Linked DNA regions of Homo sapiens: region 2 is reported to be linked to region 1. Evidence: microRNA targets listed by miRTarBase, many of them from high-throughput screens and not tested one by one. Region 1 holds a microRNA gene; the other region holds the end of a gene's coding sequence.

Evidence for each region. Region 1 holds the annotated microRNA hsa-miR-8080 (GAAGGACACUGGUGUCAACGGCU, at 3,050-3,072, opposite strand). A microRNA usually pairs through its seed, bases 2 to 8, with sites in the 3' UTR of a target mRNA and lowers its output. Matches are read on the target gene's strand: a 7mer-m8 pairs with bases 2 to 8, a 7mer-A1 pairs with bases 2 to 7 and ends in A, and an 8mer does both.
Region 2: the mRNA of HOXA1 is a reported target of hsa-miR-8080. Seed matches in the 3' UTR shown: 7mer-m8 at 975-981.

The regions. Positions count from the first base shown.
Region 1 is chr2:79,863,502-79,867,900 of GRCh38, forward strand. MIR8080 (microRNA 8080) reads right to left here and starts at 3,082; the gene lies at 2,994-3,082. The region is part of intron 4 of CTNNA2 (catenin alpha 2); the gene reads left to right.
Region 2 is chr7:27,090,630-27,095,028 of GRCh38, reverse strand. HOXA1 (homeobox A1) reads left to right here. Exons shown (of 2, transcript NM_005522.5): 2 at 234-2,036. The coding sequence ends at 589. Among named protein-coding and RNA genes, the nearest start is that of HOXA1, 3.2 kb to the left of the region's middle. RefSeq lists enhancers at 1-441, 442-942, 2,531-3,441.

The DNA.
Region 1 (4,399 bases):
GAAAGAGTTGGCCCCATCACAGAGTTGAGGGATGAATCATTCTGTCCAATGATGACAACACAACCACTCAGTCATTTAAACAGGGAACATTTAAATAATTCTTAACACTAATAGCAGTTTGGAATAACAAGGGATTAGCTCATAAGAAATGACAAGAACTCTTAAGGAATATGGGAATGGCAGATATGAGGAGAAGCTGCTACCCCTGGGGCTGGCATAGGGCACTCTAGGGAGGACCCCACCCTACCAGGCCTGAGATCCAGATGTTGTTGGAGGGTGTGGCCTTGGGTCACTTGATGACAAAGGAGTCACTAAGGTGCCACACAATATAATGGAGCTTGCTAGAAATCTGCCCTTTGGATTGTTGAGGAAAGCTGTTCATGGAGGGGTGTCTTGCTGGAGGCATTCTGCTACAGAATTGCACAGCGGGGCATACTGAGGGAAGCTGCTGGCCACCTGGTGCTGGAGAAGCTTCCTCTGCTGCAGGAGCCTGTTGAAGGAGCACACCAGAACCAGGAACCAAACCCTTTCCTCTGGCAGCGTCTATGCAACACCCTCTACTGACAAAGCTTAACATCAGGCCAACTGGGAAAGGAGTAATATTTCAGCGGCCCATCCATATTTTCATAGTGTTAGCAGAAAAGGTGAATTTGGATTTGATAGCCTATGCAGGAAAAGAGCATGTTACTGAAGGAAAATAGGGTTCTATTACCATAAGAAGGGAGATGATAGATTCAGGTCAGGCAACAGATTTTAACTACAGAAAGAGCTTTACGAACCAAGGAAAGAACAAAGGCATGAGATTAAGAGAGGAGTCTTGGAGTGTTTGAAACACCAGTGATTCTATTGTTGGTGCATAGTGGGCAAGGTGGGGAGAGGCAATAACAAAGTTGAACAGAGAGATCCAGGTTATGGACAGTCTTGGATAACATGATAATTAGTTTGCACTCTATATATAGGTTATGGGGAGCCACTGAGTAGTACTAATAATTTGATTCAGATTAGTGATTTAGAAAAATAATTTTGGTAGCAGTGTGGAGAAGGAATTAGAAGAGGAACACATAAAGAGACTGTTGAAATTATCTAGGCCAATGAATGAATGAAAAGCTGGCTAAGACAATGGCAGTGTTTATTGTGAAAAAGAGGTAGATTTTACAGATACTCAGGATATAGAGGCACAGTGAATAGAACTTGGAGACCAATCATATGGGGCAAGGCTTTAGAAACTCACCCTTTCTGAAAAATCAATGCAGCATAGCTCAGAAATTGAGTATGGGCTCTGGAGCAAACTACCTGGGCTCAAATCCAGGCTCCTACACTTACTTGCTGTGAGACTTCTGACAGGTTATACAACTCCTCTCCTCCGATTTCAGTCTCTACCGGATAAGCATAGGGAATAAGAAAACCATCAAATTCAAAGAACTGTTTTTTGGGACTAAATAAGATAGACGTAAGCCATTTAGAACACTATCTTGTATATCAGAAGAACTCAATGACACTGGTGTCATTTTTTTTTGTACAAACTGAAAATAACTTTGGAAATATATAATAAACTAAATTGTTGTGCTTTGTATAACACACTTATACACACATTTGTATAACACACATTGATGCGCTTTAAGCATCAATGACACTAGCATGTAATCATTCTTTGCTTCTGATGAAATCATTTTTTTCTTCCCTTGTTGACAAGGAAAGACACAATTTAATCAAGAAGACCAACTTAACTTTATGGGGCAGAAATATAAAGTATGATAATGCTGAGACACCAATGGCCATACCAGAGTATCTGATTAAATAAGTACAATAGTTAGATGGCGGGTCTTACATGCATTCATTCTTTCATGCATTTGGCCAACTCCTATTTCCAAGATAGTTATTTTTAAATTTCACTGTAAAAGTAGACTGTAACAAGAGATTTACATATGATCCATTAAATAGTTTTGTCAGTGTCACTTAAAATCCAGTCAACTTAGGTAACAATAGTAAACCCTGGAATGGGGTCAGTCTGTCCAAACAGAAATGATAATCATAACAGCAACGATTTCTAGTAATGGTATAGCCAGCAATTTTCTACAGGGAACCAGAACACACAGTGCAGGCAGGGATGTATCAGACTCCTCAATTCCACACTATCCCATCCCCAGATGCCGACCTTATGGTAGACTCTGCATAAATATTTAATGAATAAATGAATTATAGGGCTGCTTTATTTATTTATTTGTTTATTTATTTTGAGACGGAGTCTCGCACTGTCGCCCAGGCTGGAGTGCAGTGGCGCGATCTCGGCTCACTGCAAGCTCCGCCTCCCGGGTTCATGCCATTCTGGTGCCTCAGCCTCCTGAGTAGCTGGGACTATAGGCACCCACCACCACGCCTGGCTAATTTTTTGTATTTTTAGTAGAGACTGAGTTTCACTGTGTTAGCCAGGATGGTCTCGAAATCCTGACCTCGTGATCCGCCCGCCTCGGCCTCCCGAAGTGCTGGGATTACAGGCGTGAGCCACCGCGGCCAGCCTGCTTTTTTATGTTGAAGTAAGTAAGTACAGTTTCAACCAGGAAAATTAGACACTGATTTAATGACTATCTCAAACAATATGACACAGTTCTAGACTAAATAATAGGAGTAGACAGGCTTGCTTTAGGAATGGTGGTACAGGCTATTTTGAACAGGCCTGCGAAAAGGCCAAGATTTTAAGAGTTGTAAGTGACAAGTTCTGAAAAGAATTTCTTAACCCACTAAATTGGGAATAAATTTTAGTGTCTTCTCTAGAAGTGTCAGTCTTTTCAGCTTTATCTATGCACTGGTTATAAATATTAAGGACAAAAATACGTGGTTTAGCAAAGAGTTCTGGCTTTGGTGTTTATAAGCCCAGCCTGGTCAGCGGGAGAAGAATGCCTGGCTGTAATGTCCAAGATCATGAGGGCATTTTTAATGGGAAAGGGTATGACAGCTGCCTCTGAGGGATCCCTTTATGTCAGCTCATTAGAAATCATTTCCCAATCCAGGACATAAGTGTCTTCCAAACCTCCCCCTTATCAAAGGGCTCAGCCGTTGACACCAGTGTCCTTCTTAGAGCCATCACTAGGCAGCCCACTGCCTGTATTCTCTCTGCAGCTTTCTTTCTAGTTCTGCCAGAGCCCCTGTCATCCACAGACTTTCCAAGAGTAAGATAAAAACCTTTATCTTCAAAATTATTAAGGCATTTTTCCCCCATGCAGCAAGTTGGTGTCTCTATTTAATGAGCCCCTAATTCTTGCCATACATTTTGCTAAGCAAATGTATGATTTTGCTAATATGTATGATTTGATATTTTGCATTTCTTATCTCCTTTAATTCCCACAAAATCTGTGCATAGTGTGTAGACATTATTATCCTCATTTTATTAATGAAGACGTGAGGATTGGAGAAGTTAAATAGCTTGCCCTGGATCACAGAGCTTGCCAATGACATCGTTGGGGTTCAAATCCAGACCAATCTGACCTCATAGCCCTCCTCACACAGTTGTACTTAACATTCTTCATGGTGGGGCCCAGACAGGTGTATCTTGGTTAAAGTGTCCCAGGGTTTTCTTCTGTATCTTCTGCTCTTTGTTCAACTCGCAGTCCTGAACTCCTCCATGAACAGTAAATGTTTGAGAGCAAGGTATTTGTTTGGGCCATAGGAGTCACTTTCCTTTCTCTAGCTGCCCAGAAAGGACAAAAGATCCTTGACTGTTCAAAATCCTTGACTGTTCAAAAATAAAGACTTAATTTTTATATTAATTTTGAATTGTCAATATTGTCTGTTCACTAAACTTATTTTTTCTTCTTTTTCTACGTCCCTTCAATATTCTATCTATCTGTCTATCTATCAATCATCCATCAATCATCTATCTAATCTATCTGTCTATCTATCCTATCCATCCATCCATCTCCATCTCTCATCTATCTACTAGTAGTGTGTGCCCATAATCCAGACTTTAGTTCCATTTCCTTTATTTCTGTGGGACCTTGGACAGATTCTGCCCCGTGATTCTTTGTGAGAACTTTTAGACTTCTTAGATCCTTCTGGATTCAAACTCTGCATGTAACTTAAGTTTACCTTTACACGGAAAGACCCCATTCTTGGTGTTTCTTTGGAAAAATATTTTATTGAATTATAAGAAATTAAAACTGGCATCTAGATTCTTCAGAGAAAACCACTGAGAAAATAAGTTATGTGTAACACCGTAAAATAAGTATTCCAAATTGGTCTGATTAACAGCCTATGAGAAGCCTGTTTTATATATATTAGAAAACAAATCCAGAATTTAGCTCCCTCTGAGATAATTATTGTGCTCTTCCCTGGAACCAGTTTTTATGTCCCAAGAAGAGATTTACATCTCAAATAAGCAGCAGGAACAAATTAGCTGCCAAGA
Region 2 (4,399 bases), not on the chromosome of region 1:
GTGACGGTAGTGTTCTGTTAATATCTTGAGGCTCCATTAATCACCGGTCTGACCATGCTAATGGTTTACATCAGGTTAACACTTTACACCTCATCACTCACCCTCCACAGCCCGATTTGTGCTGAGTTCTTGATCTTTTCTTTACCTGAGTGTTGCCATGAAGCGTGTGGGGAATCTCAAGTCGATTTAAAAATTTTTACATTTCCGTCTCATGGCTTCCCACTTTGCCCCAGGGAAAGTTGGAGAGTACGGCTACCTGGGTCAACCCAACGCGGTGCGCACCAACTTCACTACCAAGCAGCTCACGGAACTGGAGAAGGAGTTCCACTTCAACAAGTACCTGACGCGCGCCCGCAGGGTGGAGATCGCTGCATCCCTGCAGCTCAACGAGACCCAAGTGAAGATCTGGTTCCAGAACCGCCGAATGAAGCAAAAGAAACGTGAGAAGGAGGGTCTCTTGCCCATCTCTCCGGCCACCCCGCCAGGAAACGACGAGAAGGCCGAGGAATCCTCAGAGAAGTCCAGCTCTTCGCCCTGCGTTCCTTCCCCGGGGTCTTCTACCTCAGACACTCTGACTACCTCCCACTGAGGCGGCTCCAGCCCCAGACAACAGCCCAGGCATCTCCTTGGGCTGGGACTTCTTACCCAAAGCACATGCTTAGCTTATCTTTCTTTCCATTTACAGTCTCTTTCTTCCTTTCTAATCCTATCTGGGGAGCTCCTGGCCAGGATAATATATTTGCAGATAATTCTGGACCAGAGACTTGGTGCGGGGTTAACACCTTCATCCAGATTGGGTGCCAGCATACATTTTCTGGTGGGCCTTAACATCCCTCCTGCTTTTAGGAGAATTCACAGAACCTACTGTTCCTTTCAGATGACCTTTTGGAAAATAGTTCCCTTTGCCAACAGAAACATGCCAGAAGGAATCTTCTCATCTTTTATCTAACTATATGTACAGCTCTCCCCTCCCTTGTCCTTGAAAGTAGGATATAGCGAAAGGCGAGTCCAGGAGCTCAGGAAGAAGAGATGCACTATATGTTTACACAATTAATTCATCCCTTAATTTAAGTCATTTTCATGTGTGTGAGTTTGCTGGTTGTAAATACTTTGTCCTAAGAGATTTATCTTTATACAGATTTTCTAGAAATGTTTAGGTTACTAAAACAGGGTGGGCAAACTCTCTAAACTGGTACAATTTTATAGGTGAAAGAAAAAATTCCCTCATTTAAACCCAATCAGATGCCTCAGAGGGTAGCCTTGATTTGTTCTTACAGTTAAGAAGCCCTGCAGAGCACAAACTTCAGAAACCCGGCTTCCTGTGCTAAGTCTTTCCCAATCTCTACCCCTTTCTTCTCGGGCCACCCTCTGTTTAAAATTTGTGCTGGGTTATTCAGAACCTAAAAGTATTATTCAAACCAATTTCTTCCTTCCACAGTTATCTTAGCTGGATATAATGTATTTTCAGCTCAATTGTTAATGTGATGGATGGCACAATGAATGTATATTTTGTGTTATTCGTGAATAGTCTTTTGCATGTCGCACAATGTTTGATGTCCCCAAAGTACCACACTGAGTTCTATCAGTTATCCTTTGTGAGCCTATGATATTCCCCATTTCCTGTACAATCATGAACAGCTCTGAGATCCTGGAGTGATATGATCCAGAGCAGAGTTTACGGGTCTTAGGATGTCTGTAATAAATAAATATACTCAAGTTTCAGGTATGCTTAAGCATCCGTGTATTTGGCTGGGCTACAATTTGTTAATTCCTATGAAGTTGGCACATTTCATGAGGGGAAAGGGAGAAGGGTGGTAAATATTTTCAAAGAGATGGGCCTTTTCTTGAATAAAAGTTAATAACAGCTCCTTTATTATAATCAAAGCTCATAATGGAAAAAAAGACTGATGAAGAAATTTATGAAGCAGATTTATTTTTGAAACAAACATGGATACTTCCTGGGTCAAGTGCTAACCTTTTCACCTCCAACTGGATGTTGACGTATATATAAACAGAACTCCCTTCAAAAGCCAAAACTGTCTTCAGTCAGTCTTTCCTCACATCAGTGAACCAAGAGCTAAGAGATTCACATTTAATTAGCTCCAGTATAAAGTTGTTGTGAGGATGGGGCCCTTATTCCACTCCTCTTCCTTCTTTTTGGATTGTCAGGCAGAGTTCTGATATATTCCACCCTTGAAATGGAGTGTTTTTAGTAAACCCTTGCATCCCTTCCCCCATTCTTCCTGTCAACATCCATCCCTTCCTGCGGCTCTTCACCCCTTCTTCCCCATCTCTGGGTTGCACATCTTATTCCCTTCAGACTCAGCTTTGATTTCATAGCCGTCATGGCTGTAAAGGATCCACAGTTCTAATTCCATGCCACATAACCCAGAAAAAAAAAGTCATTTTCTTCTCTGGGCTCCACAGGTACTTCCAGGTGAACTTGTGGAAGCTACCCTGAAGTCTTTCAATATCCAAGTTGTTTCTGACCAAGGTATGTATCTGCTCTCAAAAGAGGAAGCCAGCAAATGATAGAGTTCAAAGTGGCTCTCCTCCCAGGCCTCTTTATTGCTTTCCTTTACTTTCACACATTTTTGGAGGCATTTTATTTAGCCCAACAGTACAGCAGAAAATTTACAGCATTGAAAACAAACACAGACAGATGACTTCCTTCCTCCCCAAAGGGTGTTTTACAAAGGACGGGCTGGAGGAGAAAAACCCTACAAAAATTTGGAATTTGCAGGCCGTCTAGGGCACTTGTGAGAATTCCTGCACTTCCCTGTCAAAGAAGAGAAGGCTGAACTTTGCGGTGCAGTTGCTGCGGCCATATCAAGGGCACCGGGTGCCCTCCCCTCAGCTGCTGGGTTCTGAGGTTGCCTGTAAAAGACTCAAGTGGATGGAGAAGAACTTCAAAGACGGTCAACCCTTTCTTTCATTTCCTGCCTGGCCTTATACTGTATCTTTTGTTTATTAGTGTAGGGCCACACAGCAAAACAGATGGCTGGCTTCCAAATACTTTAATGTGTTAAAGTGTCATTTGCATGCCATTGACTCCATTTCAATATCTAAAAGCAGGGCGAGATCCACTGGAATCCCAGAGATTCCAGTCTTTAAGATGCTGGTTTTAATGTAGCAGCAAGAGAGAACAATAAATTATGGCTAACCATCTCTAGCTTTCTCTAGGTCATGGAATAAATCAGTTAACAAGCAATGCATTTAGGAAACATTAATACACCTTTCAACAAGGAAAACATTTGTATCTTTTTAGCTGTCTCAATCGATTAAATCAAAGGCGCTTAACACATCCTATTTCAAGGTCTCTCTGCTTTGGTCTCTAAGGAGCACAGTTAGCTACTTGAAAAATGACAGCAATGGTAACTGAAACAACACAGAGTGGGAAAACTGAAAATAACATTTTATTGATACATTTACAAAGGAAACAAGGGTCTCAGTTAGGCACCTGGGATAACTGCGATACAAAATTCTAGTTTTCCAATGTTTTTTTCCTCACTTCCTCTACATTTATCCACAGTACTCCCCAAATACAGAGTGTTCCCAAACTAGGCTGAGTTGAGGTCTTGCTTTGGCTCTGAAGTCTGCTCTGGGTTTCACCTTTTAAAGTTTACTTTTGGAGGCTATTCAAATGCGGTGGTGTTTTCCTCTGGGGCAATCAGATTCAAACCGATCAATATTTACTCAGTCTGAAAGGGTTGTTGAAAAGGCTGCTAACAACAAACTGCTTAGCTGCTCACCCCTGTTTAATCTCAGGTTCACCGAAAGTTCAAGAAGAGATGAATGCAGTGATGGGTCACTTTAGAATGAGTCCCAGCAGTTTATCTGAGCTCTCAACTAAAGGCAACAATTATAGTTCCATCCCTCTTTGGAAAAGGGGCAACTTTCCTATTATTCTTTTGCTAAACAATGTTTACTAGAAACTTAAAACACTTTCCTCTCCCCTCTTGGTTCTTTTCTTTTCTTCCTTTTTTTCTTTTTTGTTTTTTGTTTTTTGGAAGCTTCCAGCTGCCCTTCTCCTGCCCCCTCCTCTAGTTTTCTGCCAATCCATTCAGTTTCATTTGACTTTAAATAAATCACATCAAATATTGTTAAAATGTTAAATTAGTCTGACAGAAGATATCTGATTTATTTCAGATGCCACAAGCTATGAAATGAAGCTCTTTGGGCCATTAGAGTTTATCTTTGTGAAAGTACAGGGCAAGATTGAATTGAAATCCATTTGTGTTTGAGTAATATTGACAATCAGAGCCCCAATATCCATCTGAGATGGCTGTTGAGTGGGAAAGGGGGGAGGGAGAATTGGCTTGCGCAGAAGCAAATACCTCAGGTGGAAAGTCAACTTTTAAATTTTACGCCTTCTTAATGCATGAAGTATTGAGAGATG